Linked DNA regions of Homo sapiens: region 1 is linked to region 2. A link means that fine-mapping ties the variant in region 2 to the expression of a gene that starts in the linked region. Tissue or cell type: transverse colon. Region 2 holds a variant in brackets; the other region holds the start of a gene. All regions are shown on one strand. Distances are between the middles of the regions.

The links. PIP is the estimated chance that this variant, and not a neighbour inherited with it, causes the effect.
Region 1: LINC01719 starts here. The variant in region 2 is fine-mapped to the expression of LINC01719 in transverse colon (GTEx, PIP 0.93).

What each region holds. Positions count from the first base shown.
Region 1 is chr1:146,050,389-146,055,535 of GRCh38, reverse strand. LINC01719 (long intergenic non-protein coding RNA 1719) reads right to left here and starts at 2,940. Exons shown (of 3, transcript NR_125968.1): 1 at 2,588-2,940. RNVU1-6 (RNA, variant U1 small nuclear 6) reads left to right here and starts at 3,292; the gene lies at 3,292-3,455. RefSeq lists enhancers at 2,622-3,353, 3,354-4,082 and a silencer at 3,203-3,442.
Region 2 is chr1:145,960,486-145,965,632 of GRCh38, reverse strand. It overlaps ANKRD34A (ankyrin repeat domain 34A), which reads left to right and starts at 1,058. Exons shown (of 4, transcript NM_001039888.4): 1 at 1,058-1,449; 2 at 2,096-2,323; 3 at 2,665-3,212; 4 at 3,754-5,147. The coding sequence starts at 3,874. It overlaps POLR3GL (RNA polymerase III subunit GL), which reads right to left and starts at 943. Exons shown (of 8, transcript NM_032305.3): 1 at 865-943. RefSeq lists enhancers at 1,047-1,216, 4,615-4,664, 3,866-4,701, 5,065-5,147 and a silencer at 1,532-1,826. The variant C/G (reference allele first, on the strand shown) is at 2,539.

The DNA of each region.
Region 1 (5,147 bases), 90 kb before region 2:
TTCTTCTGATCCCTCAAGCAACACCAAGGAAGGTGGACCTGCGAGAGAGGAGTCATCCTCTTTCTTTCTTTCTCTCTGCCCTCTCCTTTGATCAACTTTTATCATTTCATTTGCACCTCAGAAAATGAGGCAAAATCCAGTTTGGGCTTAGGGCCAGAGAAGAGCCCTTGAGGCCTCCCTCTGGAAAACATACTCTCTCAGTTTACCAGAGTTTCCTGTACCAAGGGGAAATTTCCGCAAACAGTAGTGTTATATTCTTTTTGCCTTCCCTCTTTTCCCTTTGCCCAGGGAGGCCAGATGATTGTGAGAACAGGACTTGGGACTTCCTGTGTGTCTTGCCCCCTTCCTCCATGTGATAAATAATGGCTGACACCAAGCAAGTGGGATTGGGAGGCAGGGAATCTTTCATTTTCTTCTTCATATACTTCTACGCATTTGTTTGGTTGGTTTTGGCAAGATTTTCTCACCAGAAATGGAGATTTGTTGGATTTAAAATAAAAAGTAATCAGCCATGTTTTACATTTCTATAAAACACTCAAACCAGGCCATACTCCCCTGCTGTGCCTCAAAATCAACCATAAACTGTCGAGGTCAGGAGGCAGGGCCCTCACACTTAAGCACAGTGTGTTTCCTCAGAATTGGCCAAGTTGATGCCACTCCAATTTCTCAATATACCACAACCCATTAATTGCGGTTTTTAAAAGTGTACATGTATTTTTACCAAAACCCCAGGGCTTCAGTGTTCTCAGCACACAGAAAGACAATCATTGAGACATTGAGTATTGCTGAGGAAGAAGGCTTTAATCAGGTGCTGCAGCTGAGTAGACAGGAGATGAGTCTCAAATCTGTCTCCCTGATTGACTAAAGTTAGGGGTTTATATAGCGCAGAAGAAAAGTTAACTGTGTGTGGGAAAAGAGGAACTAGAGAGGGGTGAGGAAGCACTCGTGATGAGTGAGGGGACTGGCATCTCATTGTCTGGATGCTGTGATTGGCTGAGTTTCGGGTCTCTGATGCTTTTTGAGAGGCCTGAGAGTCCTTTCCTGAGGAAGGAACTCAGATAAAACAAATGTAAGTTTGTTTTATAGAATGGCTTGACCTCAGGAGTTTGAAACCAGCCTGGGCAATATGGTGAAACCCTGTCTCTACCAAAATACAAAAAGAAAAAGAGGGTTGCTTCCAAGATGGCTGAATAGGAACAGCTCCGGTCTACAGCTTCAAGTGAGATAGACGCAGAAGACAGGTGATTTCTGCATTTCCAACTGAGGTACCTGGTTCATCTCACTGGGACTCGTTGGACAGTGGATGCAGCCCACGGAGGATGAGCCAAAGCAGGGTGGGGTGTCGCCTCACCCGGGAAGTGCAAGGGGTTGGGGGATTTCTTTTTCCTAGCCAAGGGAAGCTGTGAGTGACTGTACCTCGAGAAGCAGTACACCCCTGCCCAAATACTGTGCTTTTTTCCACTGTCTTTGCAACCGACAGACCAGGAGATTCCCTCTTGTGCCTGGCTCGGCAGGTCCCATGCCCATGGAGCCTTGCCTGCTGCTAGCACAGCAGTCTGAGATCAACCTGTGACACTGGAGCATGGCAGGGGGAGGGGGTTCTGCCACTGCTGAGGCTTGAGTATGTGGTTCTATGGTCACAGTGTAAATAAAGTGGTAGGGAAGCTCGAACTGGGTAGAGCCCACTGCAGCTCAGCAAGGCCTACTGCCTCTAGATTCCACCTCTGGGGGCAGGGCATATCTGAATAAAAGGCAGCAGACAGCTTCTGCAGACTTAAACGTCCCTGCCTGACAGCAGGGACTGCTGTCATAATCATTATGATTATGAATCATAATCATGAAGACAATCTGTATTCCAGAATAGTAAGGGAACCTATTCCATCAGGGAGCCAACTGAAAACATCAAATCCCAGTTCACACCCCAGGGTGTGGTGTCATGCACCTGTAGTCCCAGCTACTTGGGAGGATTAGTAAGGAGGTTTGCTTGAATTCGTGAGGTCAAGGCAGAAGTAAACCCTGATCATGCCACTGTACTCCAACCTGGGCGACAGTGAGACCTTGTCTCAGAAACAAACAAACAAACAAAAAACCCCACAAAACCAAACAACAACAAATTGTCACCTCATTCTGAAATGACAGTGGCAAACATCACTTTGCTATTTGAAAATTAAAAGAAGCCGGGCGCGGTGGCTCACGCCTGTAATCCCAGCACTTTGGGAGGCCGAGGTGGGCGGATCACAAGGTCAGGAGATCGAGACCATCCTGGCTAACAGAGTGAAACCCCATCTCTACTAAAAATACAAAAAATTAGCCGGACGTGGTGGCAGGTGCCTGTAATCCCAGCTACTGGGGAGGCTGAGGCAGGAGAATGGCGTGAACCCGGGAGGCGGAGCTTGCAGTGAGCCGAGATAGCCCCACTGCACTCCAGCCTGAGCGAAGAGCGCGAGACTCCGTCTCAAAACAAAAAAAAAGAAAATTAAAAGAAAAACACTCCCTCTTGCTATCAACCTGCCCTCTTGCTCTAACTTGTCTGACCCATGGTTTAAAATGCCCAAAAGCTGATGTACTCAAATTATAGTACACTTACCTGTTCTGCACCAGCATTTACTTTTGTCTGGAGGAGATCACCATGCATGGTCCTATACATGTCTAATGGCATGGAATGATGAAGGGTAGTGTCTTTTAGGATAGTTGGATACATATATATATATATATATATATATATATATATATATATGCGGAATGCTACATCACAAGAATAAGAATGTGAAAAGAACCAGTTTCTTTTGTAATCCTAAACGTTCTAGTCTGAGAATTAAAAGCCATTGTTCGAAGAAGGGTGCCCAGGGTCCAGCTGGTCGCCGAAAGCTTGCTCCGCAATACAGGCTAAGGACCAGCTTCTTTGGAAGAGAACAGATGAGGGAAGCAGGAGAGAAAAAAGGGAGAGGCAGACGTCACTTCCCCTTGCCGGCTCCGGCAGCGGGTTGGTCGGCTGAGCGGCAGAAAGGCAGACGGGGACTGGGAAAGGCGCTGTCGGTGACATCACGGATAGGGCGACTTCTATGTAGATGAGCCAGCGCAGGGGCTGCTGCTTCGCCACATGCTGCTTCGCCACGAAGGAGTTCCCGTGCCGTGGGAGCGGGTTCAGGACCGCTGGTCGGACCTGAGAGTCCCAGCTGTGTGTCAGGGCTAGGAGGGCTGGGGGGGAGGGGGGTGTGCGCGGGGCAAGTGACCGTGCGTGTAAAGGGTGAAGCGTGTGAGGCTGCCGGCGGGGCGGAGGTGCAATAACTCATACTTACCTGGCAGGAGAGATACCCTGGTCACGAAGGTGGTTTTTCCAGAGCGAGTCTTATCCATTGCACTCCGGATCTGCTGACCCCTGCAGTTTCCCCAAATGTGGGAAACTTGACTGTATAATTTGTGGCAGTGGTAGACTGCATTCGCGCTTTCCCCTGTATTTTTGTCGTTTTAAAAATAGGTTTTGTTTGCTGCAGAAACGCATACTGGGCGTCAGCGTAAGCTGAGAATCAGGTCTTTGTTCCCATCTGTAACTTCACTGAAACTAAAAATTTGGGACATCGTGGTTCTCACGTTTGTAATCCCAGCAATCTATGAGGTACGTCGATAGGTTATGTTTATGTTAATATCGCTCGACCTCAGGCGTGTGTGGGCAAATATAGTGAACCCGTCTCTACTAATCTCTTATCTTTTTTTGTTGTTGTTCTATAGAAATAAAACTAAGCTTTTCTTTTCCCTATGGGATTAACAGCAAACAGTCCGCTGGAGTGTATGGCGCGATCTCGCCTTACTGCAACCTTTGCCTCCTGCGTTCAAGCTATTCTCCTTCCTCAACCAGAGAATACTCAGCCTCCCGAGTAACTGGCATTACAGGCTCAGGCAACCAAAAAATTAGGTCCGGCTAATTTTTTGAATTTTTAGTAGAGACATGGTTTCACCGGGCCGGGCGCACTGGCTCGCGCCTGTAATCCCAGCACTTTGGGAGGCGGAAGCGGGTGGATCATGAGGTCAGGAGGTCAAGACCATCCTGGCTAACACAGTGAAACCCCATCTCTAATAAAAATACAAAAAAAAAAAATTAGCCGGGTGTGGTGGCACGTGCCTGTAGTCCCAGCTACTCAGGAGGCTGAGGCAAGAGAATCGCTTGAACCCGGGAGGCAGAGGTTGCAGTGAGCTGAGATCGCACCACTGCACTCCAGCCTGGGCGACAGAGTGAGACTCCGTCTCAAAAAAAAAAAAAAAAAAAAAGAGTGACAGGGTTTCACCATGTTGGCCACCCTGGTCTTGAACTCCTGACCTCAAGTTTTCCGCCTGCCTCGCGGCCTCCCAAAATGTTGGGATTACAGGCCTGAGCCACCGCACCTGGCCTGTTTACAGACTTTACAGACACATTTTGTTTACAAGCTTTACAGGTACAGTTCAATTGCGATTAGTGTATATTATGTTTGGCCCAAGACAAGTGTCTTTTTTTTTTTTCCAGTGTGGCCCAAGGAAGCCAAAATTTAGACAACCCTGCTCTAGAGGGTTTGATTCATGGTTCCACTGGGTTATGCTTATTGCCTATAATTCCATTTGATATTTTCCAAATTTGATTTTTTAAAAAGCGTTTTCCTGAAGCACCCTAAAGCTTTCCTAATAATATGAGAACTTAAACCAGATTGGATGTGACAAAACCCTGCTGGAATCCTGCAACTTCTAACCTTAATGTTAGATCAAGAAGCAAAACACCCACCAGTCCAAGGGTCAGGGAAGCTGAAGATCATGCCTGAGCTGTAACAACGCCCTTCCCAGTATACAAAAGAGTGTAACAGCCACTCGAATTCTATCTTCCAAGTGTCTCCTGTTGCCCAGGCTAACCTAGAGCTATCTAAAGATGGCAAATCTGGGAAATGTGCATTCAGCTTGGCAAAACTGATACATTACAAATCCACCACAGTCCACTTCTTCTCAAAGTGGCATCAATGTACATCTTCCTCCTCTTCTTTTTTTCCTCCTCTTCCTCTTCTTTTGCTTCTTCCTCCTCCTTTTTCCTCCTTGTAAAATCATACTTAAGGTTCAAATAAAGACAATATGAAAATCATACTTTTTCTCATTCAGTGAAAATATGCCAACCCTTTCCCCAACAGGAT
Region 2 (5,147 bases):
ATGCATGGCTCTAGTAGAGGATTCCCTATGATCAGCATGATTTAGCATTGTGTCTGGCATATAGTAGGTGCTCAATAAATATTTATTGAATGAATAAATACATCATTTCTATGGGCCTTTCCAAACTTGAGAAATTGTGATCCATAAAGCCTCCCCTCACCATTCCAGTTCTCCTTGCTTTCTTCCTTCTCTAGATTGTAGAAACAATTATGAAACACTAATATTATGAACCACTAATTTAATGGCTCTTAATTACATACTGTATTGTCTTTTATTGTTCCCTAGTTATGTTAGGAGTTTAAATTCTGCCTCCCCAAAAAGAGTGCTAGTTACCAGAAATCAATTCTATTTAACTAACGTTTATTGGGCACTATATATTAACTACTAGCACCTGTCCTACAAAACCTTCTATTCTAAAAGGCATAGAAACGTTAAAGAGAGACAGTGCACTAAGTGTCCTAATAAAGGTATATACAAAACGCTATCGTAGACGGGGGAACAATTCATTTTGCAAGAAAGGCGGCCCAGGAAAACTACAGGTAGCATTTCAGCTAGTCTTCATAGATAACAGGAGTTTGTCAGGCTCTTGGGATAATATTAATAGATTAGGGGGAAGTTGATGCTATAGCAAAGACAGATACAAGAGGCTGTCTCGTTTTCTGCTTTAATGTCTCTCCCCATGCGCGATAGAAAACTGCCATTCTCTAGTATACAATCAATACAGAAATGGAAGCCCAGGGGAGAAACGGTAGGGAGCCAGAAGGGGGCTGATCCAACAACCTGACGGAAAGCGTTGTCTATTTCGCAGCCTGGCCGGGGTGAACAAGTTTGGCAAGTGTCGGACCGAACCAGGTCAAGCCTTACCTGCTGCCCCTCCCCAAAGCGGAGCCCAAGCCGCGACCAACTTGAAATGTACTGGGCTTCCTCAAGTCGGTGGCGTTCTAAGCCCGCCTCCCGGAGCTCCCTATTGGTGAGTTTTCTCGGCCAATGCAGGAGAAGCCGAGGAGGGAAGTCCGCCCTCTTGAAGCCTAGGAAGAGAAGGAGGGAGGGAGCGAGTACGCCCGGAACCGAAGCTTGCGAAGCGGGTCGCAGAGAGAGATGGGCGTTGCAGAATCAGCTGGGGTCACTTATTTCCGGTCTCACTCCAGATGAAGGAGCCACTAGCCGGCGAGAGTTCACCGAGGGAACGTGACACTCATATCTCATCGAGGGACCGTGTTGAGGGAGCCCCTACAGAGAGGCCAAAGGAGGAGAGGGCCTACGGAGAAATGAACCTCTGTAAAAGCTGCTCTTTAGGGATCAGTCTTTTTGTGACTCTAGCTTCATAGCTTGGTCTCTCCATTACTCCAGCCTTCCTTTCAATCATACACTGCCTCTCTCCAGCACCACCAATGGATACTTCTTTTCTAAAAATGTTTTTCTGTGGGTTGCTGCCGTGTCTGTGAGAAGGTGGGCAGAGGGTTCAAGAAAGGAAGGATTTGGGATCAGCGTACCAGGGTTGGGGAGACAGGGCAGGAGCCCAGCTTTTTCTGCATTTTCCACTACTTTCCACTTCCTGCGAGCTCCTTGGGAAAGCCAGCAGAGTGGAAGGAGGAGTCCTATTTTCACAGAAAGCAGAAACAAGGGAGAAAGGTTCAGAATGGAGATGAAATCTAGGAGTTAGTCAAGAAGAACATCCCAGATGTCAGAGAAAATGGCCTGTAGACTGGGAGGCTGTAGGTGTAGTGGCAAGCTCCCAGTCTTTGCCATAGGACAGAAACATAGCTGTGAAGCTTTGGAGAGCTTGCTTAACCTTATTAAGTCTGTTTCCTCATCTGTAACAAGAAGATGATAGTTCCTATCTTATAAAGTTGTGAGGATTGAAAATAGTGTATGTAAAGCACATGGCACATAGTTGACACGTGTCCAAGAAATAACTAGTAAAAATGGGTAGCTTCCTGCAAATATTTCTCTCTCTCTCCCATCCCCGGGAACATTATTTTCAGTATCTTGCATCTGGGGGGCCTCCAGCCTCTGAATTAGCTCAGGACCCTGAGTGAACTTTTTAAATCCTTAGGATTTTTCTTTTTCTCCCACTTCCCTTGGTGCCTTCCAGCTGGACACAAACTCATTCCTAAAATATGTGGATGGAAGCTATGGTAACCATGGAGACAGGGCAGGTGGCAAGGAGAGGCAGAGACAGTGTGAGAGACCAATAGACAGATAGGAAGAGAGAAGATATAAGGAATGTTTCAGACAGAGATCGTCAAGCAAGATGGAAAAAATAAGACGTCTAAGCAAGACTGAGATTAAAGAGATGCAATGTGAGAGAGTGTATTACAAGGTTCGCTCTTCTTCCTGCCCCTGTCCTATCTCCCTGCCCACAATAATACGGGGTGGAGGCACCTGGAATGTCCCTTGCCTTATCTAAAAGTGCTCCCATATCCACCTTCCTCATACTTATCTAAGAGGTCTACATAAGGGAGCTGAGGTCCAAGTTTCTCTGCGATGGGTGTTCCGTTTTTGAGAGATGGGGCGGGGGTGTATCTGTGTCTGACT[C/G]CAGGCTGGACCGTGATCTCCTTCACAATTAAACTACAGGAAGAAAGCCACATCTCTTGCCTCTCTTTGCACAGTATGGACACCGGCTGTGGATCCAAAAAGCCTTTCTACACCTTTCTTACACAGTGTGCCATGTGCCGTGTATGGCAGGTCAGGTCTGGCGCACAGGAGCGCACAAACACACCAAGTGCGGAGAATGGGGATCTGCTGAATCTCAGCGAAGAATCTGGATGATGGTCCCTGTCTGGGTCGCGGAGGAGTCCCCTAAGGAACACTTAGGTTTGTTGGGGCTGAGGGGAGGTCGGCTGAGAAAAGGAAGTCAGGATTGGAGCCTCTAGGTTTTTGAGGGTTTATGTGTGCATGAGTGGGGGAGCAGTTTGGTGCCTGACGCCCCCACCCGCAGTGACTAGGCTATAAATAGCACAGCAGAGCTCCGCCCCCCCCCCCCCCCCCCCCCCCGCCAAGCTTCTCTCCTCCCGAGCCGGCGCTGTGCCCGGGGCGCTCCGGGAGGAGGGACCAGGATCCGGCGCCGGGGCGCAGATACTGACACCAAGGGAATCCGGGTGCCCCCCCCCCCACGCCATGCGGGCCCCCAGGAAACTGGCTCCGCCACCTCGGCTGCCCCGTGGCCACGGCCCCAATCCTGGCCAGGCGGAGATTCTGCGGACATTCAGGTATCTATCTGGGCACACAGCCTGGGAGGGGAAAGAGCAAGGAGTGATGGGGAACATCGCAGGGGCAATAGAACCCCCCAATTCTCCCTCCACCCGTTTTAGGTCTCAAATGCAGGCTGCTTCCCTCCCCCCACTCAATTTTTGGGGTTGTGGCAAGCTAAAACAGGTTAGGAATGAGAATACATGTGTGACTGTAGGGTGCATGTATGTGGGTGGGTGGCGTTCAGCATCCTAGAAAGGGGGATCCCAAGTGTGGATAAGACAAGGGGGACAGAGGAAAGGTCTGATAAGCCATGGGGTGAGGGTGGGGGTGCGGACATCCCTGCGCGTGCACGAACGCATTTGCACGCGCGCTAGTCCTTCAGTGCGGGTGCACCCTTCCCACCTCCTCAGGCATGCGCTGCGGGGGAAGGGCCGGCTCAAAGGCATGAGTTAGAGGAAGGACTGTATGCCGTGAAGGTCTCCTCCACCCCACGCTGGGTCCCTGCATCTGTGCCTCAGTTTTCCTGCCGAATCTATCAATGAGATGTCTCTCTTGCAGGGATCGGCTTCGTCACTGAGACCTCAGGCCTCTGCCAGCCACTCCCCCTCCCCATACCCCTAGTCATCCTCGGCAGGTCTCAGTCCCGGCTCCATCTGTGCCCTCGCCCCAGCCGCAGCTATGTTGCACACCGAGGGCCACGCTCTTCTTCGGGCGGTGGGTCAGGGTAAGCTACGCTTGGCCCGTTTGCTTCTGGAGGGAGGCGCCTACGTGAATGAGGGTGATGCGCAGGGGGAGACTGCGCTAATGGCAGCCTGTCGGGCCCGCTACGACGACCCCCAGAACAAGGCACGCATGGTACGCTACCTCCTGGAGCAAGGCGCGGACCCCAATATCGCAGACCGATTAGGGCGCACGGCGCTCATGCACGCTTGCGCCGGGGGTGGGGGCGCCGCGGTGGCCTCGCTGCTCCTTGCCCACGGCGCAGACCCCTCAGTCCGAGATCACGCGGGCGCCTCGGCTCTTGTCCACGCCCTGGACCGCGGGGACCGCGAGACCCTTGCCACACTGCTGGACGCCTGCAAGGCCAAGGGTACGGAGGTCATCATCATCACCACCGATACCTCGCCCTCAGGCACCAAGAAGACCCGGCAGTATCTCAATTCTCCACCATCCCCAGGGGTGGAGGACCCTGCTCCCGCCTCTCCTAGCCCGGGGTTCTGCACGTCGCCTTCGGAAATCCAACTGCAGACCGCTGGAGGAGGAGGGCGTGGGATGTTATCCCCTCGCGCCCAGGAAGAAGAGGAGAAGCGGGACGTATTTGAATTCCCTCTTCCTAAGCCCCCCGATGACCCATCCCCTTCCGAGCCGCTCCCCAAACCACCACGCCATCCCCCAAAACCACTCAAAAGGCTCAACTCCGAGCCCTGGGGCCTAGTGGCCCCTCCTCAACCAGTCCCACCCACTGAAGGGAGACCGGGGATCGAGCGCTTGACTGCCGAATTCAATGGCCTGACCCTGACCGGTCGACCCCGTCTTTCCCGACGTCACAGCACCGAAGGCCCTGAGGACCCGCCCCCATGGGCGGAGAAAGTGACTAGCGGGGGTCCTCTCTCTCGCCGAAACACAGCACCAGAAGCTCAGGAGTCTGGTCCCCCTTCAGGGCTGAGGCAGAAACTGAGCCGCATGGAGCCAGTGGAGCTGGACACCCCTGGACACCTTTGCCCTGACTCGCCTGAGTCCAGCCGCCTGTCCCTGGAGCGCCGCCGATACAGCGCCTCCCCGTTGACCCTCCCTCCAGCCGGCTCGGCTCCCTCTCCGCGCCAGTCCCAGGAGAGTCTGCCAGGGGCAGTATCTCCGCTAAGCGGAAGGAGGCGGAGTCCGGGGCTGCTGGAGCGGAGGGGCTCGGGGACGTTGCTCCTGGACCACATCTCGCAAACGCGGCCGGGTTTCCT